7 linked regions of the Homo sapiens genome follow. The protein of the gene in region 4 purifies or fractionates together with the protein of the main gene of each other region. This does not show direct contact. Each region holds a gene or a part of one and is shown on either strand. Other genes may lie near its edges.

Region 1 (3,500 bases), on a different chromosome or scaffold from region 4:
ATTAGCCCAATGTGGTGGTGCAAGCCTGCAGTCCCAGCTACTCAGGAGGCTCACGTGGGAGGATCTCTTGAACTCAGGAGGTTGAGTCTGCAGTGAGCCATGATCGTGCCACTGCACTGAGCCTGGGTGACAGAGATCCTGTCTCAGAAAAAAGGAGAAGAAGGGAGGGGAGGGGAGGGGTGGGGAGGGGAGGGGAGGGGAGGAAAGGAAAGGAAAGGGCTATTTATCTAAGACTATTTATGGGCTAATCAAAAAGCCACATAATAAGGCAGATAAGCAGTAAGGTCCTTTCCCAATGAAGTAATGGTTAAGTATTTTAATATCAAACAGCACAAAACACATGCATCCAACTGGACATGGTGGCTCATGCCTGTACTCTCAGCTGCTTGGTAGGCTGAGGCAAGAGGATCACTTGAGCCCAGGAGTTTGAGGCTGAGTCATCACACCATAGTACTGCAGCCTGGGGAACAAGCAAGATCCCTGTCTCTAAAAAACATACAACAAAAGATACATACACATCCACCCCTATTTTTGAAGTTATAGAATAACATCATAAAAATACTCATGATGAGTGGTTAAGTATACACACAAATCAATAGTGTGGTTCCATTTCTCAAGTAGATTCAAAAAAATAAGAATAGAAACACAAATATTAATATGTATAAGATAACAGGTTTTTCTACCTTTCCTTGGATTTATTTCCATGAGAGAACTACAGTGAACACACTGCCTTTTTTTTAACACATTACTTCTACTAGCAGAAAAAAATTAGGATTACATAAATTTGATTTGCATCAACTTTTGCTTACATTATAGGATATGGAGAAGTCTTTCAAGAATTTGAAACCTAAAAGTAACTTCTTTGATTATTTCAGCTAATACAATCGTACTTTTTATTCCTATTCCTCAAGCACCATCTTCTGAATGTTAACTCTGTTCTGAGATTTACATTCTTTTTAAATACTACTAAAAATATTCTGGAAAAAACTCCAAAATAATAGAAAATCAATTGATACTTTATGTAACCTGCAAATTCTAAAATATTAAGTAGTTTGCTTACATGACCATAGATAAGCTTAGTCTGAAAGATGTCTTTTTAAGTTAATTTCATCTGTTTCAGTTCTGTATTTCAAACTGTATATTATTATGTTTATTTATCCTATTCTCTTAGTCCCCCTAGAGTTTTGTTTTGTTTGAGTTTTTCTGAGCCAGGGTCTCACTTTGTCACCCAGGCTGTAGTGCAGTTGAGCAGTCACGGCTCACTGCAGGCTCGACCTCCTGGGCTCAATTGATTCTCCCACCTTAGCTTCTCAAAGTGGTAGCATTAGAGGTGTGAGCTATGGCACCTGGCCCCACAGAATTTATTATGAAGAGCCTGAAAACAAAGTTTCAGCTGCCACAGAATTGTAATCCACAATATAAATTCTCTCCTATCTGTTCACTTCAGCAAAACCTAACAAAATATTAATTTTCAGAATACAACTGCCCTATTTCTTCAACTACTTAAAATAAATGAGACTATCATTGAAAAATACACTGTGACCCACAAAATTTTGCTGGACAAAATCTCCAAAAACTATCACAGAATAAACATTTTACTAGTCAACTGACATGCTAAGATTTGAACTTGCTGGAGCTCTTTTTACCTTTGAAGTGTGTGATTTTGCTGCTTTTAGAATTTAAATATTCCTACAATGTCGTTCAGCCATGGTGCCCTGTGTATTTTTACATAGCCTAAGGAGAATGTAACAGGTGGCTGAGGCTCAATTCTATACATGTAGGTATATGGCTATAACACATTTGCCTAAGATCTAAACAGAAAGTTGACTCAGCAGTTAACCAAATATGTTCAAAATCAATTGCCAGTCAAGGATGCCTATAGGTCTAACATGTAAGATTTGTAATCAATGGGAAAAATGTTTGCACTTGATAGTAGTTTGATAAGATGGCAAACACAATGCTTTAAAAGTTTGAGTTGCTAATTATCAAATACATTTATAAACACAAGTATATGCTTTCACTTAAAGATATGTAAAAATTAAAAATGAGTGAAAGTAAAGTTCTAATTACGCATTAACTATTTGAGGTGTTTCTGTAGTCTAGACTTGTCTAAATTCTGGAAAAGAGGCAAAGCAGACAGAGCATTTTGCACTAAGTATGTGACATTACATAAATGTTTAAAGTACTTTGAATTTCCAAGTAGCTCAACCTGTCTGTTAAAATATGCACAGTTTTAAATTGGAAGAAAAAAATGAAAATGTTTAACAACCTCATAGGAAATTAACCTATACAGTAACTACAATTTCTGATTTGGGCATTTTTATAACATTTTCACAAACATCATTTTATTTAATTCATGTAACAATCCTGTTAGATAACCAGCATTCATTTCATTTGACGGATCAGTAAACTAGTACAGGGTATTTAAGTTAGTTCTTCCCAAACTTTAGTGTGTACCAAAATCACTCAAGTTAAAATGCAGACTCTCAGATAACATCCCTAACCCAGACTGGGGTGGATTCCAGAAATCTGATTTTAAATAAATGGCAAAAGTGATACTGGTAGAGATGGTCCCCCCAGAAACATCTTTTAGGACACTGATTCTAGTACTGTAACTAAAGTGGTAAGCAGTGGAAACTCCTTTTTTTTTTTTTTTTAACTCTGAATCAATGTTCCCAAATGTTTAGATGACAGAGCTTTGCAGATCTCCATGAAAGATATGTAAAAGTTTTATTAAGGTGAAAGTATTACACTCAGTTAAATTGTTAGGTTTTTGCAAAAGTAATCCAACTATTAGGCTGGTGCCATTACTTTCAATGGCAAAAACTGTGATTACTTTTGCACAAACCTAATAAATACCTATTATACTAAACTCCACTGCAAACAAATGGTAGTAGGTGCCCAAGTTTTAAGAAACTTAAAATTGAGGAGATCCTACCATAATTTCATTTTCTCTGTAAAGTGGGAAAGGCTGATATTAAATTATTTTAAGTTAATGGCTTCTCATAATTTGAATACCATATCACTTTACTGAAAGGAAAGCTAAAATTTAGGGACCAGAGGTTCTAAGAACATAATGAAAAATAAAGATGAAAATATAAAAGCACTTAAGAGCACACCGTGTGAATACTAAAAAACCACTGAACTGTACACTTTAAAAGGGTAAATTTTATTGTATGTGAATTATATCTCAATTTTTAAAAAAGGAAAAAAAGCACAGAGAAAATGTCAAACCCTAATATTTGCCAATAATTTTATACTTATAAAACATTATATCAACCTTGCTATTAAATGGCATAATTATTTTCTGGCACACATCATAGGTGCTAAAAAAAAAATGCAGAAATAATAAATAGCATAGATAGGCTTGGTACGGTAGCTCCCACCTGTAATCCAAGCACTTTGGGAGGCTGAGGCGGGTAGATCACTTGAGGCTGGAAGTTTGAGAGCAGCCTGGCCAACATGGCGAAACACCATCTCTACTAAAAATACAAAAATTA
Region 2 (3,500 bases), on a different chromosome or scaffold from region 4:
AACATTATTGTTTAATGATGCTGGAAGGAAACATTTCCTTTATATACCCAGGTTCCTATGTGAACATGAGCTTCTTCAATCATATAGCAAGGGGATTTTTGGCTGAGATAATCTAGTTAAATTAAGTGTATTACCACTGTTCTTTTTCTCCTCTTCTTAAAAGAGAATAATTAAATGCAAGGTTATATTTATCAAAGAAAACATACTAATCAGAAATTCTGAAAATTAAGATTCCCATAGCAAATTACCTCCTTCACAAAATGTACCAGGAAAATTTTCAGGAAATTCACTTTTCAGAGCCAAAATCAGAGATCTGAATTGCTTATGTGGAATATTAGTGTTCCCATTCAATATTGTTCAGATTTTTTGAAACACAGTTTATTTCTTATTGAAAAATAGTGATGCCTTAGAATATTGTTTAATTTAATCAGAGAAACAACTTTTAGGAATATCTTGAATACTGAGGAAAAAAAATACTGGCTAATTACATATTTCCCAAAAAGCTTTGTAAAAGATGAGTAGAAAATGATTTAATATTCATTCAGAGCATGTGACTGTATTCCTGAAACACAGCACTCATCTCACTAAACTGGTCTTGCTAAAAAGACTGCAGGATAATAAGGCTTATACACTGTTTCAAATTACTTATTCAAAGTCAGGTATTAGTAATCCTAAGCATAAATTAGTTTCCTGTTTTCCACACACAAAATCAGTCTTCCTACATTTAATTCATTTACAATAAACTACGGAATATGATCTAAAAACAAAAATCTTGGACTCAGAAAGCTTACTCGAAATTATCCAATAATTTTTCACACTTTAAGCCTTTTTGCATATGCACATACTTGGGTCATCCGAAAAATTCCAGGTCCCTGGCCACCTGCAGTCACACATGCAATGCCCTCTGCATGTATGATCTGAATCAATGCTACAGCTGCACTTAAGCCACTTCTGGGGTCCCACTTAATTCAGCTCCAGAGGTTGTCCCTTTATGTCACTTAAACTTAATATAATACCCGGTGAATAGTATGTTAAGAGGTCATTAGAGTTTTGGGAATGAAATGGATATTTTGATTTGGCAAAAAACTGGATGGCTGCTCAGAGCCTACTCTGATCAGTACTCACATGCCCAGGAGTCATGGAATAGACCTGGGCTCCAACCATACAAGAAAGGCTGGTACCTTTAAGGCCTGGTGTCTGAAGGTCATAAAAGGGTGTTGTGATATGGCCACTGGGGATCCTGGCTAAGTATCAAAACATCCAGCTGTCTATGTATGTGTTCAAGAACTGTGTATGATCTCTTAGGGCTACAATAAAATCTCTAGAACTCTGCAGTTCCTTAACATATATATATATGTGTGTGTGTGTGTGTGTGTGTGTGTGTGTGTACGTGTATATATATATATATACACATATATATGTGTGTGTGTATATATATATATATATATATATATAAAAAACAGTGAAAATACTAATGCTTAACATTGAGGCACTGAGAACATTTATAAGGGTGAATTATAGGACTAAAACATTCTTTAGAAAACTGTACCTAAGTACTCACATTTTCTATTAGGTCACAAATGATAGCATTATTGAAGTAGTCAATGTGAGTCCATTCTATATCCTAAAAGACAAAACAGAACAAAATCCAATGACACAAGATGAAGCCACGACACTACCATCCATAAAACAGACTTTGACCATCTTATCATATTTCCCTTCCTCTCTGAATTTATTTTCTTTATAGAATGGGTACTGCAAATGTCACAGGCAGTTCCCAAAACTTTCTCAATGCAGCTGCCTACCACTGACATAATCTGATTGAAGCAAACACCCTTGACCTGTTCTGAGACTGCCTTCCATTCCACTCTCCCATCTGCAGCAATTTCCCATGCACTTCACTGGCCCTGGGCCAAATATTTACTCAACAGGCCCTTGGGTCAATATTACGTTGTGTATGTTTACAATGTTTATAAGGAAATAAGTTAGAACTTGATCCCAAGAATTTAAAGCCTAGATTCTTCTGTTCTGAATCTGTAATCATAAGGAAAAAAATTAATTTTAGAGTCAATCTTGTGTTGTAGGGAAGTTAACTCTTTCAAGTGTTAAAAAAAACAGGCCAGCGCTACCACAAAGTATTTTCAACATAAGGAAAGACATGAAAATCTATCCACTGGTTCTAACACTGGCTACAAAGCCAAATCCATAAAGCCAAATGTAATCTTTCTGTGTCTACTTAACATTCTGTCCATAAATGTAAACATTTATTTGTCTTCTATTCATTACAGCAAGCTAGCAATCTTCCTATATATTCTTAGAAGTGTTTTAAACAATCTGTATAAACTGTTTTAAGTTACCCATCAAAGTTTGGGCATTCTCTTCATGATGAGAAGACAGGAAAAGAATGAATCGTGCTTTTAGAATATTTATGTTACTAAAAGGTGCCAGACAAGTATAAAACATTTCTGAAGCATAATGAGTACTCTAAAATAAAGATGAAATATTTATGATTTAGCTTTTGAGTAAATGGGTTGTTTTACTAAGCCACTGGGGATAACAATCACATTAGAAAAATCTATATGGAAAGAAAGATAAAAGAGAATTCAGTGTCCTTAATGGCTTAAAATGATACTAAGAAAATAAAGGAAAACAGGTAATATCATTACTAAAATATTAAGGCAAATAAACAAAAAAGGAAATAAAAATATAAACATAACAATTCCTTTTTATTTTTTGAAATAACTAATTTTACACTTGAAAAAAGACTGGCTATTTTAAAAAATAAAAGGGTGAAAAGCAAATATATATTTTTAAATTAATGATGAAAAGACTCTGCAAACACTACTTCTGGTTATTTTAAGATTATATTAAATGAGATAATCTATACATAGCACTTAATATAATACCTGCTATGTAGTAAGGACTCAGTAACTGTTACCTATTTTTACTATAAATTTGAATACTCAATACTTTTTGATATTGAACAAAGTCTCAAAATATTTTCAAATCTACTTACAGTGATGCTGACTTTTTTGGTATACAGTTCTCTAAGTTTTGGCAAATGTATAATGTCAAGCAACCACCACCATTATCAGTCCCCAAAATTCTCTTTGCAGCCACAACCCTCTCACAACTCCTATCTCCTGGCAATCCCTGACTCTATAGCTTCTTATAGGTAATCAGTCTCTATAGCTTTGCCTCTTCTAGAATGACAGATGGAATCATACAGTATGTAGCCTTTTGAATATGGCTTCTTGTTTAGGCTATCTTCTGAATTAGAATTTATATTACGAGTAAAAAAGGACCAACACTTTTAAAAATAGCATTTCAACATTACCTCCCGTATATACTCCTCCTGCTCTTCTTTAAGAGTAAGTTCAATGAAGATTTGTTGCAGCTTTTCGTTACAATAATTAATAATGAACTGCTCAAAGCTGTTGTCCTGTATGGAGAAAATGAAAAACAGCTTTATAAACCATGCCACTAGCTCTCTCAAAACA
Region 3 (3,500 bases), on a different chromosome or scaffold from region 4:
TGATCCTCCCGCCTTAGCCTCCCAAGTAGCTGGGACTGCAGGCATGCACCACTATGCCTGGCTAATTTTTGCAGTTTTTTGTAGAGACAGGGTTTTGCCATGTTGCCCAGGCTGGTCTCGAACTCCTGGGCTTGAGTGATCTGCCTTGTCCTCCCAAAGTGTTGGGATTACAGGCGTGAGCCACTGCACCTGGAATTGTTTCCCTAGAGAGAGACTGGACTAAGTCGAGTTTAAAGAAATGAAGGAAATTGTTTAAGTTGGATAGACTATTGACAGGGCATAGAAACTTTTAAATAGGAAAGTCTAGTCCAAGAATATTAAGCTTACATTTCAAGTTACTGTAAGTGATGAAAAGGGAGCCAGGCAGAAGCCCTCAGAATAAGATTGAGGCCCCAGAGCAATCTTGGAGAGTGACTGTTATGATGCTTTATTTTTATTTCTGCTTTTCAGAATGTGTTTTGTTTTGAAAGCTATAAATTTTGTTTTACAGTATGCACTGAAAAAACCATACGGTGTACTATATAAAAAGTAAGTCATGATTTCTTTTACTGTATTTTAAATGATTTTGTTTCATTATAAAAGTAACCACTTTATGGAAGATTTGGAAAACAAAAACTTTTTAAAAAGATATTAAAATTCCTTACAGTTATTAATATTTTAATTTCTTTCTTTTGGTCTGTTTTTTTCATTTGTATTGAATGTCCTTGCATAGTTGTAACCATAGCATATATATTTTATTTTGAAATACAGATTTACAGAAAAGTGCAAAAATAATGCAGAATTCCCATATACCCTTCACCTGGCTTCCCCTAATGTTACATCTTGCATAACCGTAATGCAATGATCAAAACTAATAAATTAACACCGATTCACTCATGTTAATCAAATGACAGACATATTTGATTAGCACCAGTTTTTCTTTTTTCCTTCTTTTGAGACGGAGTCCTGTTGTCGCCCGGCTGGAGTGCAGTGGCATGATCTCTGCTCACTACAACCTCTAACTCTGGGTTCAAGCAATTCTTCTGCCTTGGCCTCCCATGTAGCTAGGATTATAGGCACGTGCCACCACGCCTGGCTAATTTTTGTGTGGTTTTTTTTTTTTTTTTTGAGACGGAGTCTAGCTTTGTTGCCAGGCTGGAGTGCAGTGGCATGATCTCGCCTCGCTGCAACCTCTGACTCCCTGGTTCAAGTGATTCTCCTGCCTCAGCCTCCTGAGTTGGGATTACAGGCATGCACCTCCATGCCCAGCTCATTTTTGTATTTTTAATAGAGACAGGGTTTCACCATGTTGGCCAGGCTGGTCTTAAACTTCTGACTTTAGGTGATCTGCGCGCCTTGGCCTCCCGAAGTGATGGGATTACAGGCGTGAGCCACCCCGCCCGGCCCAGTTTCTTTTTTCTTTCTTTTCTTTTTTTTTTAAGACGGAGTTTCACTCTTGTTGCCCAGGCTGGAGTGCAGTGGCATGATCTAAGGTCACTGCAACACCTGCCTCCTGGGTTCAAGCAATTCTCTTGCCTCAACCTCCCGAGTAACTGGGATTACGGGCATGCGCCACCACGCCCGGCTAATTTTGTATTTTTAGTAGAGACGGGATTTCTCCATGTTGGTCAGGCTGGTCTCGAACTCCCGACCTCAGGTGACCTGCCCACCTCGGCCTCCCAAAGTGCTGGGATTACAGGCGTGAGCCACCGTGCCCGGCCCTAGTTTTCCTTTTAATACTCTTTTTCTCTTCAGGATCCCATGTTGCATTTAGTTTTCATGCCTCCTTAGTCTTCTCCAATTTGTGACAGTTCCTTAGTCTTTCATTGTCTTTGATGACCTTGACATTTTTGACAAGTACTTGTCAGTTATTTTGTAAATTATCCCTCAATTTGGGTTTAAATTTTCTCATGAATTGATTGAGGTTATGCATGTTTGTCAAGAACACTACAAAAATGTTGTGCTTTCCTCATATATTCTTCTGGATTATAATCCAGTGTTCTTAATTTTGTTGCTTAAATTGTTCTGTTTGGCAATTGGGAACCCCCCCCCCCCCCACCTTTTCTTTTGTTTGTTTTTTTAGTATGAGACGGAGTCTCACTCTTTCACCCAGCCTGGAGTGCAGTGGTGCGACCTCAGCTCACCACAACCTCTGGCTCCTGGGTTCAAGCGATTCTCCTGCCTCAGCCTCCTGAGTAGCTGGGATTACAGGTGCCCAGCTAATTTTTGTATTTTTAGTAGAGACAGGGTTTCACCATGTTGGCCAGGCTGGTCTCAGACTCCTGACCTCAGGTGATCCACCAGCTTCAGCCTCTCAAAGTGCTGGGATTACAGGCGTGAGCCACTGCTCCCAGCTGGGAACTCTTTTACGTTGGTTCCTATGACCTTTCAACATGCCTCCTGTTTTTGAGCACTTCCTTACTTTCTAACATCACAAAATTATCTGGGTTCATCTTGTCTTTTTCCTTACCACAGCCCTGGAATAAGCTACAGTCATCCCTCAGTATCTGTGGGCGATGGGTTCCAGAAACCTCCCCTTATTAAAATCTGGGTATGCTCGTCTCTTACATAAAATGGCCTAGTATTTGCATATAACCCACACACTTCCTCCTGTATCCTTTTTTTAAAAAATGCTTCCCATAAAAGTAAGTTGCATATACTTTAAATCATCTCTCGATTACTTATAATATCTAATATAATGTAAATGCTATGTAAATAGTTATAATGCTGTATTTTCTGGTTTATCCTGCTTTTTATTGTTCCTTTTTCTTTTTATTTCTTAACTTTTTTTTTAGAGACGGGGTCTCACTGTTACCCAGGCTGGAGTGCAGTGGCACGATCATATTTCACTGTTGTAAGCCACTGTGCTCGGCGCCCCCTGCTTTTTTTTTTTTTTTTAACACACTTTCTTTGTCTATTGAATACTGTCAATCCGTGGTTGGTCAAATCAATCCATGGATGCAGAAGGATGCAGAATCCATATGTACAGAGGACTACTTATTTTCCACGAGCCTATAAACTCCATGAAAGCAAGCATCTTGTTTAATGTAGTAGTATAGTATCACTAGCTCCTAGAATGGTAGCCTGGCATATAACAGGCACTGAATAAATATTTGAATGAATGAATATCCTTTCAATTGTTTTATCATCTGAATATAAAATTACCTTAATATATTAATTGTATATACTTATTTAGATTATTAAAATTGTCACTTTTTTGATATTCTTAGGAAAAATATTACAAGACCTTTTGAGGATCAGACATCACTGGTAAGTATAATAATCTTTATGATTTAAGAAAGCATATAAGTAGTAATTATTCAGACTAATTCATTTGTACTCCAAATTTGTGATTTTTTTAAACATTAGAAGTCATCCTGTGTGAGGGAATTTTGTGTAAAATGGAGAGGAAATACTTTAAAAAATATCTATAGAGCTTTCATTTCACTATGGCTGGGAAATGTGTTTTTCATTGCCTGCAAATATATTGATAAAATTTTTAAAACTTGGCCGGGCGCGGT
Region 4 (3,500 bases):
GGGGCGGGGATATAAATGGCCCACCTCACCCACACAGGCCACGTAAGGCTCCTGGGAAGGACTGCCCAGACTTCCCACAGGGGAAGAAGCAGACTTTAAGTGTGGCGGGACACAAAACCCAAAAACTGGACTCTAGGAAGCCATTCCTAATTACATCAGGTATTCACCTACAAGAAACGTTCACTGAACTCCCTACCTGGGAAATCCTACACATTGATCTTGAATGTCTTAAGGCGGTTCTACCTACAGGCAGATGCCAAATTAGATATCCTCCTCAGGTCCCTTCCAACTCTAACTCCATGATACTAAAAAAATAAGTTTTAAAGAGCAAATGAAAACATGAAGTCTCAGCATGCAAGTAAGACATATTGATCTCAGCTGAGCGCAGAGGCTCATGCCTGTAATCCCAACACTTTGGGAGGCCAAGGCCTCCCAAATATATATATAGAGAGATAGATACATAATCTATACATATATATCTATATCTATGGATATAGATATCTCTTTCATGAGGACTCTGAATATCTAGATATAGATATATACAGATCCCAAACACAGCACACTCACCCTAAATCTCCCTCTGCCCCAGTCCTTCAGTGCCACTGGGCACACAGGCAAGCAGCACACAGGAGGCAGTGTGGTGCAGAGGGAAGATTCCTACATCATAAGGTAGAAAAGTTGGAGCCTCATCTCCGCCATACACAAATAAGCTCTGCAACTTTGGGCAAGTCATTCTGGGTCTTAATTCTCTCATGTGTAAAATGAAGACATTGGGAACCAAATAGTCTCTCAATTCCTTTTCCTCTTCTAGAATTCTTTATAGCTCAGTAATTCTCCTCTAAAATGTGTTTCTCCCTCGGCATATCATCTTTCCTCACTCTATGTCACTCAAAGAAAGATATAAATAAGATCATCTTAGCACATTGTTCTAAAAACCTCTCAAACATAGGAAGCATCTTTTAAACACATGATACAACCAAGTTTAATGAGCTGAATTAGACATTCTTTTTCTCCCTTTCTACATCAGTGGGTTTTCAACCAGTGTCCCCTGAGCTTTAAAGAATTAACTCAGGGCCAGGCTCAGTAGGTCACATCTGTAATCCTAGCACTTTGGGAAGCAAAGGTGGGAGGATTGCTTGAGGCCAGGAGTTTGAGACCAGCCTGGACAACACAGTGAGACCCTGTCTCTACAAAATATCCCTCTCTACAGGCAGGGTGGTGCACGCTTGTGGTCCCTGCTACTCGGAAGGCTAAGGTGGGAGGATCACTGAGGTGGGAGGATTGCTTGAGCCCAGGAGGACGAGGCTGCAGTAACCTGTGATCGCGCCACTGTACTTGAGACTCAGCAACAGAGCGAGACTCTGTCTCAAAAAAAAAAAAAAAAAAAAGCAACTTGGAAAGCCAAGGGGGATGGGGAGGGGAGAGCAAGGGCAGATGAGAAGAAAGCACAATAAACATGGCTCAAGCTCCCAGTCCACTTCAATCAAAGCTGTCTTCATTTGACAAAGTGGTTCTAAGTATTCCAACAGGACATAAGTATTCTTACTATTTTTCAGGGCACTGGAAAATTCTGGGCCACCTTTGTCCTTGAACAATGGGAAAACATCTGGTTGAGGAAGCTGGTTGGTGGTCAACAGAGCTTTTTGTAGTTTGATCCTTCCTTCCAAGAGCTGGTCCCACAGTGCTGAAAAGAAGAAAAGAGAATCCCATTCCTCAATAATAAAATATTCTGGGGGTGAGGTGGCAGGGGTGGGGAAGAACAGGAAACCACACCAGTCTCTAAGCACCACAGCTTTAGCAGTTTAATGCCATGGAAACAAATATTCTCTATTAGAGAAAATAAATTCAGTATCCATGAAGCAAGTATTTGCTACAGCAGAGTGGGAATGCTAAAACCCAAGGAGAGGAGAAAACACTCTTCTCTTCAATCTTCCCCAGTTGCAGGAAGTACTAGAGCAGAACCAGCTAAGCAGATCAGTGCAGAAATGGCTGGCTAAGCATACAGGAATAGGGCTTTAGGCTTCTGGGTAAGTGGGGCATGTCACAAACTAATTGAAAGGACACAGGAGATAGAGAATAGCCAAAAACAAACAAATGAAAAGTAGACCAAATGCAGATACTTTGAAAAACAGGCAATCAGCAAAACCATGTACAAACCTATCTGGTTCTTCACGGCTCTTCCTTTCTCCACTTCCTCAGAAACTTTGACACTAGAGAAGGTCATCACCACACCATCATCCTCACTGTTTCTATCTCCAGCCCTGTCTTCCTCACTCTCGCCTTGGGAGTCTTCCGCGTCATCCCCTTCTTCCATGCCACTCTCTTCGTCTTCCTCCTCCTCACTGCTCCCAAGGTCATCCATTCCCTTGGTAAATTTCTCAAAGTCACTGATACTCTGGACACTGAAGCCCGGTGTTTTTGCAGAGTGGCTTCTGCTCTTCTTGCTCTCCCTGTGATCACCACACTCCTGTTCCTCAGCAGCACCCAGGTCGTCCTCATCATATTCCTCCAGACCCAGTCCCTCTGAATCTTCATCTCCAGACCCTTCCTCATCAGATATTTCCTCATCTACAAAGAAGAGAGGGAAGAAAGAGAAAAATGGGTATTACCTGGAGAAAATACCAAGCCATAGACTTCATTTCAACTTAAGCACTGTGGCATCAGGGGGAAAATCTCTTACTGCACTCAATTCAACAATATATTTATTACACATCTACAATCTCCAAAATGCTAAGGGAGAAGCAAAGATGAATAGAACACGGGTCCTACCCTAACAAAAGGAGCTAGTGGGAAAGACAGACTCACAACATTACAACTCAAGGAAGCATCAGAAGTGCTTTGACAAAATTTCAATAACCCAGAAGAGTGAGAAATTTTAACTGTGGGGCAAGTGAATTTAAGCTAATCTCTAAGGAAGAGCTAGCATTTGCTCTGGCCCTTGAAGAACAGTAAGATTTCAACTGGTGTTAGAGAATTACCAGTTTTCCCAAACCTGATCTGAAAAAATGTACAATCTATCACATCCGTCTGCCCTATTTACTAAATACTTATTAAGCACTCATTATGAGCCAGGGGCTAAGGAAAGGCAAATAGAATTTAATACTTGCTGGGAGGAGTTCATGGTCTGGTGGGAGTGGTAGATATGCATGCCAATAATTATATTACAAGGTCATTAGTACACAGTGTATGGAGATGGAACCACCTAACTCTCCTGGAAAGGTGGGGGATGGTATCATGTGGAGAAGGAGACATTATAATTTTACTTATGAAGCATAAGGCAACAGCTCATAGATAATGAAGGGAAAACGCACTGGAGTGCAGGATGCACAAGGAAGTGATGGGAGATGAGACTAATCAGGAAAGGTCTCGTCTTTCATGAGGACTCTGAACTTGATCCTATAGTAGACAGAGTGCTAGTTAAGGCTCTTTGTTTGACTTATGCTTAGAGTATCATCTGATATGTAGAGGTTTTTACAGTTTATCCAATCTGTTCCATGGTA
Region 5 (3,500 bases), on a different chromosome or scaffold from region 4:
TGGCGCTATCTCGGCTCACTGCAAGCTCCCTCTTAAGGGTTCATGCCATTCTCCTGCCTCAGCCTCCCGAGTAGCTGGGACTACAGGCGCCTGCCATCACACCTGGCTAATTTTTTGTATTTTTAGTAGAGATGGGGTTTCACCGTGTTAGCCAGGATGATCTGGATCTCCTGACCTCGTGATCTGCCCGCCTCGGCCTCCCAAAGTGCTGGGATTACAGGCATGAGCCACCACACCCGGCGTTTTCTACATTTTTACATAACATTTCTGCCATCTTCAAACATCAGTTCTTCCATCTCTTCCTCAACTATTCCTATCTACCATGCATGTGGACATTCTCAAACAACCATTAATGCTGTTTGGTAAGATTTACTGATCTCTATTAATATTATCTTGACTTTGCTTACAGAAAAAAAAGCTAGCTCTAAGAAGTATATGGAAAAAGATGCAAGGAAAGATGCTTACGGGAACAAGAGTCAAAAATAGACTACTGATAAATTTCCTCATCTTTCAACTACTGAAAACATCTCTATAAACAAATATGAAATAATACTGAAAAACTCAAACAGTATCAAAATAAATCAAAGCTATCAATTACAAAAAGGGGGAAAGAATGCAATGTTAATTGAAGGACCATCTGCTTCAGATTTTTGTCTTTTTTTGAAAGAACTACCCAAGAAATCCAGTAATTAAAACAGGTTTCATACTGATCCTGCAACTAAAATGGTGACTATATATTGCAGTTACATTAGCATTCTTTCTTCCTTATCACCATCCTGTCCATGGAGTTATTTGCTCAAGGAAACTTCACAAAGAACAAAAACAAGCCATAAACACAATAGGATCCTGGATTCTAAGTGAGAGAAAAATGAGAGTGTGAAAGAAATCATTTCTTCCACTGGACCACTGTTCAACTGTTATTAAAAACACTGTGTTCCATTCTAGTGTTTAAAGAGAAATATGGAGAAAAAGAAGACAGTCCAAAAAGCCACAAAATGCTGGGCACGGTAACTCACGCCTGTAATCCCAGCACTTTGGGAGGCCAAGGTGGGCAGATCATTTGAGGTCAGGAGTTTGAGACCAGCCTGGCTAACATGGTGAAACCCCGTCTCTACTAAAAATACAAAAAAATTAGCCAGCCGTGGTGGTGCATGCCTGTAGTCCCAGCTACTCGGGAGGCCGAGGCAGGAGAATCGCTTAAACTTGGGAGGCAGAGGTTGCAGTGAGCCAAGATCATGCCACTGCACTCCAGCCTGGGCAACACAGTGAGATTCTGTCTCAAAAAAAAAAAAAAAAAAAGCCACAAAAAATAATGGCTGTGATTAGTAAATGGAGTCTACAGAGATGGTGTGAAATACCAACCTGAACATGAAAAAAGTAATATCAAGGGGAACCTACACTAGCAATTCTACATTTCTTAAGGGAAAAAAGAAAGGCTTTTCATTTGGGCACATAGACACATATACATTCACTTCTCCTTCACTTCCCAGTATTCCAAGGAATGTCTAAAGGCTTCCGTGTGTTAGATCCTAGCTAGTGCGAGGAACAGAGTGGAACAGTAGATGCATTTCGTGCTGCCTGAAGACAAGTAGAGAGCAATGAACAACTAGCGAATGACTGCAAATGTGCAATGCAGCTATGAGGAAAAGGAGCCAAGTGGTGAGACATGCAGCAAGGTGGGAAGGGGAGTCTACCCTAGGTAAGGAGCCAAGGAACATCTGCAAGGAGGGAAAGGCGTCTAGCCTGGGCAATAAGGAGCCAGCCATGCCAAAAAGGAAGTGCAGCCTACTGGGCCAGGGGAAGAGCACAGTGAGAAAGCGCAAGGGACTTGGCCTGCTCAAGGAATCAGAAGATCAGTGGGGGTGGGGGTAGCAAGCCAAGGGAGACCAAAGGGGTGGGAAGAGCCAGATCACACAGGTAAGGCCCAGAAAGGCCCACGTCCTTCATCTCAGTAAGACCTGCTGGACAAGAGGAGTTGAGAAATTCCACTCATCTCTTCACCTGTTTATTTTACACAGCCCATAGCAGGGACTTTGGGAATCTAAAGATGGTTCCTGCCATCAAGAACTTACTTGCATGTAATTACAACTGGATTAAAAGCATACATATATACCAAAAAAAAAACCAAACAAACAAAAAAAAACAACCAGGTTAAAAAAGCTTACTGTCTGAGAAGATAAAATATTTGCATGGGAATCACCTAGCCATCAACTAATAATAAAGGATCTTGGAGATTAGCTCTTCGGTACAAATGAAACGTAAAGCGATTGCCTGCATCATAAAGCTAGTTAGGAGCAGAACTCAGCTCAGGTTCTGACTTCTAGACTAGTCTTTAATTCATGACATTCCATTTCAGACAACAACACAGGCACCAAAGGGCAACAGGTGAACAAGTACCAAAGGATGGTACAAGCATGTTTTATGGGTTCACAGAAGCTGGTAAGCAGGAGATGAGGCTCCAAGGAATAGACAGGTAGAGCCAAGTCTGGGTGACAGACAGACAGGGGAGGAGCATTTGAGAGGGCTGGGCCTGGTGAAGGAACATCATGCGGAGACAGCTGGGCCCAGAGTTAGTTCTCACTCTCCCACCTCCTAAACCTTGGTTTTCTCCCCTGTGAAATGGAAACTATAGTACCTGCCTCAGTGTTGTGTGCATTAAGTGTTAGTGTATGTAAAGAACCTAATATGACACATAGCAGATACTCCATAAATGCTGGTATAGATATCCATACATCTCCAAACCCATTATACAATGAAAATGCAACAGAAGACTGAGAGGGTAGGGAAAGGAGGAGTCCCTGTGGCTACGGCTGAGGATCTTTTAAAGTGTGAGGTAAGTTAAAACAGTAAGAGGCAGTACTAGCATGATGCCTGACCATGCCCAGCCCCAGCTGGCAGGGGCTCACTGAAGATCTGGGTAGAGCCAGAACTGTCATGGGACCAGAAGTGAGCTTTCCTCATGGAGACCCTGCCTGGAATTTACAGCAAACTACAAGTTTGTATCCTGAAACAAAATAAAGAGCTAGTCTCACAAAGGATCAAAGCTATGAAGGTCACCCTGCTCTAGCTACACACTGAACTGTTAACACACTTACCGGTTTAGGGATAAAGTGGAAGTTTGAGAGGGCATCCAATTTTAAGAAGAGGGAATCCATCATCTTCTGAATTTCTACATGTTCTGGATTTTCTTCTTCTGCTGTTTTTTGCTTAGGAAATAAGTTCAACAATGTCAAACTAAGCGACTTGATATATATCACAGGACAAAACACTAAAGGTCAATGAGAGTATTTCTAACTTCTCATCACTAAAGCTTCAGCTACAAAGAAACATTCCAAAAGCAAAATTAAAAGCAGCAGTACCATGAGGGTTCCAGCACCTACCAGAGATGTGATGTGCATTTTAGGAGCTACAGTAACCATTACCTCTAATACTCAGAACTTAAAAATTTAATTACCTTGGTATTTACTTCTGTCAAAAACTAAGCTATTCCTAAGATGGCT
Region 6 (3,500 bases), on a different chromosome or scaffold from region 4:
GAATGACCCCAACCCCACCAGATGGTGACAAGCACAATACTCTTGGACAGCTGGGAATTGGTGGATTTGGGATTTGAATCCTCTGTCTAACCCTGGCCCTGCCCTGTGGGATTCTCTGCCACGGCAAAGAAGGGGGTTGTGGGTGATGGCAGGTGTCTTTGGTGGGTTAACAGCATCGTCATCAGACAGTGAGGAGGACCCAGAAGCCTTGGAGAAGCAGAAGAAAGTGCGGCCCATGTACCTGAAGGACTACGAGAGGAAGGTTATCTTGGAGAAGGCAGGGTATGGAGAAGGCCTACATCCCCACCCCCTGGTTCCCAGCCCTGTCAGGTCTATGGGGGTCTTAGGGGCAGGAGAGGGAAAAAAGCTGGCAGCCTGGGCCGGGCATGGTGGCTCATGCCCATAATCCCAGCACTTTGGTAGGCTGAGGCAATAGGATCGCTTGAGGACAGAAGTTTGAGACCAGGCTGGGCAACATACCCCGCCTCTACAAAAAAATTAAAAATTAGCTGGGCATGATGATGTGTACCTGTAGTCCCAGCTACTCAGGAGGCTGAGGCAGGAGGATTGAGCCAGGAGATGGAGGCTGCAGTGAGCTATGATCAGGCCACTGCACTCCAGCCTGGGCAACAGAATAAGACCCTGTCTCAAAAAGAAAAAAGGCCGGGCATGGTGGCTCATGCCTGTAATACCAGCACCTTGGGAGGCTGAGGCGGGCAGATCACCTGAGGTCAAGAGTTTGAGACCACCCTGGCCAACATGGTGAAACCCCGTCTCTACTAAAAATACAAAAATTAGCCAGATGTGGTGGTGGGCGCCTGTAGTCCCAGCTACGTGGGGAGGCTGAGGCAGGAGAATCGCTTGAATCTGGGAGGTGGAGGTTGCAGTTTTCCGAGATCATGCCACTGCCCTCCAGCCTGAGGGATAGAGCGAGACCCTGGCTCCAAAAAAGAAATGCTGTCACCCATGATTGGAAAAGAAAAAAAAAAAAAAAACGCTGGAAACTCACCAGAATCGCAGATAGCCCTGAGAGCAGGAGTCTCAGTGATTCCATAGCCCTCCGATGACCCCCGCCAGCTGTTGCTTGGAATAGCTGCTCCGCATGGGCATGGGGACAGGCGGGCCCTGGAAGATATATTCTGAAGACCCCACTTTTCCTTTACAGCAAATATGTTGATGAGGAGAACTCAGACGGGGAGACTTCCAATCACAGACTCCAGGTGGGTGGGGTGAAGGCTGGGTCGGGGGGCTGAGGGGCCTGGGGCTGGCCTGAGACCTATGGCCCTCTCTGCAGGAGACATCGTCGCAAAGTTATGTGGAGGAACAGAAACAGCTCAAGGAAAGGTGAGGCTGGGTGGGCGGGAATGGCCCAATGGAGGAAAGTTGAGGCTCGGGGGTTGGATAGGCACGGGTTCAAATTGAGCTCTGTCACTTTCTATGTGCTTCAGTTTCCTCATCAGTTAAACGGGGTTAATAACATCACAGCACTGCTCTGAGCTTGTTGAGAGGAGAGCTCAGGGCTTAGTAAATGGGGTTAATCTTGGGGCAGCCAGCCAGGTGAGGTGGCTCATGCCTGTAATCTCAGGGCTTTGGTGGGCAGAGGAGGGAGGATCACTTGAGCCCAGGAGTTCAAGATCAGCCTGGGCAACATAGTGAGACCCCAGCTCTACAAAATAAAATAAATACTGGGGCAGCAGACAGGGGCCAGCCTGCCTGTCCTGAGGCTTGTTTTCTCTCGTGGGCAGCTTCCGGGCATTTGTGGAGGACAGTGAGGACGAGGACGGCGCTGGGGAGGGCGGCTCCAGTTTGCTGCAGAAACGTGCCAAAACCAGGCAGGAGAAGGTGGGTACTGGGGCCTGACTGGACTGCTGGGGGACAGGGTGGCGGGTGGCTGGGCATCTGCGGATGCTCAGTGCTAGCTTTCCCCCAGGCCCAGGAGGAGGCCGACTACATCGAGTGGCTGAAGGGACAGAAAGAGATTCGGAACCCAGATTCCCTGAAGGAACTGGTGAGTTCTCACGCATGGTCGCTGATGGAGTAGACCGCGTGTTCCGCGTCCATCCAACCTATTTACAGAAAGTAACCCTCTGAAGATGGGATATGTACATCTCTGGGCCTCAGCTCCTACATCTCTTTAAATGGGGATAGGCTGGGTGCCGTGGTTCACACCTGTAATCCCAGTGCTTTGGGTGGTCAAGGCAGGAGGATTGCTTGAGGCCAGGAGTTTGAGACTGGCCTGGGCAACATAGCAAAATGGCTCTACAAAAAAATGAAAAAATTAGCCAGGCATGGTGGCATGCACCTGTAGTCTCAAATACTTGGGAGGCTAAGGTGGGAGGATCTTGTGAGCCCGGGAGGTTGGGTCTGCAGTGAGCTATGATCACACGACTGTACTGTCACCTGGATGGCAGAGTAAGACCCTGTCTCGAAATAAAAATAAGAAACCAAAATGGGGCTAATGTCACCTACTCCAGAGGCTGGCTGTGAGGTCCATGTGGTGAGCATGCCTGCCCTCCTTCCCTGTCCTCCATTGACCAGAGTCCTGTCTCCTGTCACCCCCAGACGCATCTCAAGGAATACTGGAACGACCCTGAGTTGGATGAAGGGGAGCGGTTCCTGCGGGATTACATCCTCAACAAACGCTATGAGGAGGAGGAAGAGGAGGAGGAAGATGAAGAGGAAATGGAGGAAGAGGAGGGGTGAGCCACTGCATCTCCCCAGGACCTAGATTTTGGGTGCGCTTCATGAAGTATTCCCAGGCGGCACTGGCCAGGAGGCAGAGGGCACCATGTGTGTATTTTTTTCACAGATGGTGGCAGAGTTAGTCTTCTGTAAGGCAGAGCCACAGAGTATAGGCTCTGGAGCCAGGTGGCACTGCCTCAAATCCTGGTTCGGCTTCAAGACTTTCATGCCTCAGTTTCCCCATCTGTAAAATGAGGACAATAGCAGCGTGCACCTTGTAGGGTTCTTGTGAGGATTAAATGAGTTCATACGCTTCGTACCCAGGCGTGCAGGAAAGGGGGGCTCGACCTCACTTGGCTGGCCCCCTGGCATCACCACATCTTGCCCCTCAGGGTCCACGGTCCCCCAGTCCAGCTGGCTGTGGACGACTCCTCAGACGAAGGGGAGCTGTTTCTGAAGAAACAGGAGGACTTTGAACAGAAGTACAATTTCCGTTTCGAGGAGCCGGACTCAGCATCGGTGTGTGGCTGGGGCTGGGGAGGACTCAGCCCCCAGGGTTCAGGCCCAGGGAACCCCACATCATCTCTGCGGCCCTTGTGGGCTTTTCTGATTGCGCCTAGGTCAAGACCTACCCACGCAGCATCGCGTCCTCCGTGCGCCGTAAGGATGAGCGCAGAAAGGAGAAGAGGGAAGAGACTCGGGAGCGAAAGAAGAGGGTGAGTGTGGGGGGTGAGCTGGGGAGGACCCCCCAGCCCTGGAGGAAAGCCCATGCCCTCCCCCTCTCTGCCTGGGCCTGCAGGAGAAAGCAAAGAAGCAGG
Region 7 (3,500 bases), on a different chromosome or scaffold from region 4:
CCATTCTGTGAATAAGGAAAACAGGTTAGACAAACAATCTAAGGTCACAAAGTGAGAGCAGAGAGAAGTACCCTGCCCATGTTCTAATTTAAATCCCATCACCTTCTCCCTTCACATTGATGTGCTGTTTCCCATGTTTTCACCAGCGAGGTACCAAAACTTACTTCCTTTCTTGAATCCCAGGCAAGGTAAGGCCATCCTCTCTCCTGGCCACTCCCTTAGATCACTCTGGACCAGCCAGGGAGGTTTTTGAGTCTGGACTGAGGCACCTGCTGAACCTCCAGTGGCCCCAACACCCTAATTACTCCCTTTGAGCTGTCTTGGGTTTTGCAAACAGGGGAACTCCCATCTGCCAAGCTCTCCATCTTAAAGAGGTTTTGTAGTTTCAGGCCGGCTGCTCCTCCTCCTCCTCCCACCCTGCCCACCTCCCAGAAAAGAGAATGGGTGCTCAGTAACAGCTATTAAGATTGCTTACTCCAGTTCAGGTCCCACTATAGACAGTGGGTGGGTCAGCAGAAAGACCCCGACCCTCAGGAGGTTCAGAGTTCAAGAAAGCTTGTGACTACCCTCTACCTCCCAAAGGGCCAAAAACCACTTCCTAAAAACCTTCCCCTACCTGGCAGGCACTCACTTCCGGGTTAGTATGAAACTCAAACTACCTGTGCAAAAGGAAAGGGGCCAGGCCAGCTGAAGGCTCCCGATGAAAGCTGCCTCCCACTCTCCCCTTCAAAGGGTGTCCTAATTGTGACCTTTCCTTAGAAGAAGAGAAAGTGATTCACACTATATTGCTTCTTGGCCTTTTGGCTAAGATCAAGTGCACAATAGGAAAAAGCCTTAAGTCTTATGTAATAGACTAACCTAACAGTTCTTAGGTGGGGGTGCACAATATATCCAGTTACACAGTTAAAAACAATCATAATACCATTATCACCCCTGACAAAATAAGATAATTTCTTAACTTAGTCAATTTCCTCAGTTGTCATCAAAATGTCTTTGGACATTTGGTCAAGAATCAAGATCCAAACAAGATCCACAACAATGCACGACTGATGTCTCAACTTTCTTCATCTGTAACAGTTCTTCCCTTTAAAAAATGCCATTTATTTATTGGAAATAGTGTGTCTTGTAGAATTTCTCACATTTAGAAACTGAATAACTGCCTACCTCATGGCTAATTAGTCTGTTCCTGTAGCCCCATTTCCCTATAAACTGGCAGTTGGATCTATGGTTCTGTTAGATTTAGGTTCAGTTTTTATTTGGTGGAGGAAATTTTCAGGCAGTGCTGTGTGCTTTCAGACACTGTAAGGCACATAATGTCTGGCTGCTCCATTATACACCCCCAAGCCATCGACTTAGGCTCCTGAAGCCAGAAGAGTTTCTCCAGCCTCCAGAGAGCTTGGATTCCTAATCACAACGCAAATACAAAGCTACACATATATAAAGCTCTACTTTGGTTTCTTTCTTTTGTGGGGAGGGAGTTTTAGAAAAAAATTTTTGATACTAGAAAAATTTTAAGACATTTAGACCTAGTCTAATACCCTGATTTTACAGACGAAGAAACAGGCACAGAGAAAGCAAAGCGTTTGCCGGTGTCCACATTGCTGGTCATGAGCAGGATCAGAAGTAGCTCCTAGGGCCGGGCGCGGTGGCTCACGCCTGTAATCCCAACCCAAAACTTTGGGAGGCCAAGGCAGGTGGATCACCTGAGGTCGGGAGTTTGAGACCAGCCTGACCAACATGGAGAAACCCCGTTCTACTAAAAATACAAAATTAGCCGGGCATGGTGGCACATGCCTGTAATCCCAGCTACTCTCAAGGCTGAGGCAGGAGAATCGCTTGAACCCGGGAGGTGGAGGTTGCAGTGGGCCGAGATCACACCACTGCACTCCAATCTGGGCGACAGAGCCAGACTGTCTCCAAAAAAACAAACAAACAAACAAACAAACAAACAAACAAACTTAGCCCAGCCTATCTTAAATGCACTCAGAACACTTATATTAGCCTACGGATGGCCATAGCATCTAACATAAAGCCTATTTTAAGCGTTTAATGTCTCATGTAATTAATTTATTGAATACTGTACTGAAAGTGAAAAACCATGGTTGTATGGGTACCTGAAGTACAGTTTCCAATAAATGTGTATCACTTTCCCAACAACATAAAGTCAAAAAATCATAAATTGAACCATCATAAGTTGGGGACTATCTGTACTCTCAAGTCTCACGGCACTACATGTGCACCAGCCACAGCAAACTTTCAGTCCAGTTAGGCTGGCTTTTCCTCATATCCCTGAGAGCACACGTGCAACTCCCCCCAAAGAAAATCTTTACAAAAGGCAAACTAAAAAGTTAAAACTTATTTTTTTAAAATTCATCTCACCACATTCCAAAGCAAAAAATAGCTAATTCTTAAGAGTCAGCAACCTTTAAATTATCCATCCATGCCCTTCATGTCTGTGGATAAGCAAAAGTCAAGTTTTAAGGAGACAGATCCCATACATTTCACGGAGTACTTATATAACACAAGAAAAGGAAAGATCTGCATTCACCAACCCCATCATATTACAGGTAGAGAAAACCAGAGACCCAGGGAAAAGTCCCACCAAGACCCAGAGTAAGTAACAATGTCTACCTGCCAGGCACTGGGCTAAATACACTTATCATAACAATGAATGCTGGTAATACCCCCATGAGGCAGGTGAATCATAAATACCTATTACACAAATTAAGAAGGTGAGGCATAGAATGGTTAAATAACTTGCCCAAGGAAGCACAGCTAACAAGTGGTACAGTGGCATTTGAACCCACTCAGTTTGACCCCAGAATATTCGCTATGTATCATCTCTTAACTTAGACGTCTTGGATCTTATACTTAAAAGGGGTATGGCTAGGATAAGACAAAAATTTTAAACATTTAAAAATACTCTGGGGAGGGAGGGAGATCTAAAAAACCAAAATGCAAATCCCAAGACTTAAAACTACAAATGTAAGACTTGGACGCTTAAACCAGAATACAGAACCCCACAAGAAAGTAGAGATATCACGAAACATATTTTATTACTAGTTACTGCATGTGTCCCTTAAAGAACTAAAACACCAACATTTGAGCCAAAAGTAAGGCTAAAAATAGGCATTTACAGCAAGCTTTGGAAAGCTTTTAGTTTGCTTATGAGGTACTCATTTCTGTAGACTCCCAAAAACATGTGCATCACAGAACACAAAAATTCCCAAGACCACACAGCCACTCCACTAGTGTCACGTTTAAATTTGTCGAAGCTGTAAATAAAACCAGGGCTGGAAAAGCACTTCAGAGATCCACGTAGGCTCCAGAGAAAGGGTCATCATCTAGCCTTACCAGACTGACAACCCAATCATAGAATTCTCTCTCAAAATGCACACAAACCCTAACAACAGGCTTAGAGAGAGAAGCTACTGGATTAACTTGAGTTAGGCTGTCAAAACCTATTCCAAAGGTTCTAAACCAACAAGTAGACACTCTCT

Evidence for each region.
Region 1: the proteins of AATF (region 4) and PAWR purify together in Homo sapiens (affinity purification with western blotting; one study listed by BioGRID). This does not show direct contact.
Region 2: the proteins of AATF (region 4) and MYO1B purify together in Homo sapiens (affinity purification with mass spectrometry, with the first as the bait; one large-scale study listed by BioGRID). This does not show direct contact.
Region 3: the proteins of AATF (region 4) and RPF2 purify together in Homo sapiens (affinity purification with mass spectrometry; 2 studies listed by BioGRID, with this or other methods). This does not show direct contact.
Region 5: the proteins of AATF (region 4) and MPHOSPH10 purify together in Homo sapiens (affinity purification with mass spectrometry; 2 studies listed by BioGRID, with this or other methods). This does not show direct contact.
Region 6: the proteins of AATF (region 4) and KRI1 fractionate together in Homo sapiens (co-fractionation; one large-scale study listed by BioGRID). This does not show direct contact.
Region 7: the proteins of AATF (region 4) and LARP1 purify together in Homo sapiens (affinity purification with mass spectrometry, with the first as the bait; one large-scale study listed by BioGRID). This does not show direct contact.

The regions. Positions count from the first base shown.
Region 1 is NC_000012.12:79,680,965-79,684,464, forward strand, and holds part of PAWR (PRKC apoptosis WT1 regulator protein), read right to left. Parts: intron 1-3,500. UniProt on the Homo sapiens protein: Pro-apoptotic protein capable of selectively inducing apoptosis in cancer cells, sensitizing the cells to diverse apoptotic stimuli and causing regression of tumors in animal models.
Region 2 is NC_000002.12:191,381,404-191,384,903, reverse strand, and holds part of MYO1B (unconventional myosin-Ib), read right to left. Parts: intron 3,443-3,500; coding exon 3,338-3,442; intron 1,625-3,337; coding exon 1,562-1,624; intron 1-1,561. UniProt on the Homo sapiens protein: Motor protein that may participate in process critical to neuronal development and function such as cell migration, neurite outgrowth and vesicular transport.
Region 3 is NC_000006.12:110,988,538-110,992,037, forward strand, and holds part of RPF2 (ribosome production factor 2 homolog), read left to right. Parts: intron 1-490; coding exon 491-528; intron 529-3,209; coding exon 3,210-3,249; intron 3,250-3,500. UniProt on the Homo sapiens protein: Involved in ribosomal large subunit assembly. May regulate the localization of the 5S RNP/5S ribonucleoprotein particle to the nucleolus.
Region 4 is NC_000017.11:36,951,954-36,955,453, reverse strand, and holds part of AATF (protein AATF), read right to left. Parts: intron 2,569-3,500; coding exon 2,158-2,568; intron 1,685-2,157; coding exon 1,547-1,684; intron 1-1,546. UniProt on the Homo sapiens protein: Part of the small subunit (SSU) processome, first precursor of the small eukaryotic ribosomal subunit.
Region 5 is NC_000002.12:71,144,134-71,147,633, reverse strand, and holds part of MPHOSPH10 (U3 small nucleolar ribonucleoprotein protein MPP10), read right to left. Parts: intron 3,207-3,500; coding exon 3,096-3,206; intron 1-3,095. UniProt on the Homo sapiens protein: Component of the 60-80S U3 small nucleolar ribonucleoprotein (U3 snoRNP). Required for the early cleavages during pre-18S ribosomal RNA processing. Part of the small subunit (SSU) processome, first precursor of the small eukaryotic ribosomal subunit.
Region 6 is NC_000019.10:10,559,511-10,563,010, reverse strand, and holds part of KRI1 (protein KRI1 homolog), read left to right. Parts: intron 1-173; coding exon 174-282; intron 283-1,165; coding exon 1,166-1,220; intron 1,221-1,294; coding exon 1,295-1,344; intron 1,345-1,745; coding exon 1,746-1,842; intron 1,843-1,930; coding exon 1,931-2,008; intron 2,009-2,562; coding exon 2,563-2,699; intron 2,700-3,074; coding exon 3,075-3,201; intron 3,202-3,302; coding exon 3,303-3,398; intron 3,399-3,481; coding exon 3,482-3,500.
Region 7 is NC_000005.10:154,758,377-154,761,876, reverse strand, and holds part of LARP1 (la-related protein 1), read right to left. Parts: intron 1-3,500. UniProt on the Homo sapiens protein: RNA-binding protein that regulates the translation of specific target mRNA species downstream of the mTORC1 complex, in function of growth signals and nutrient availability.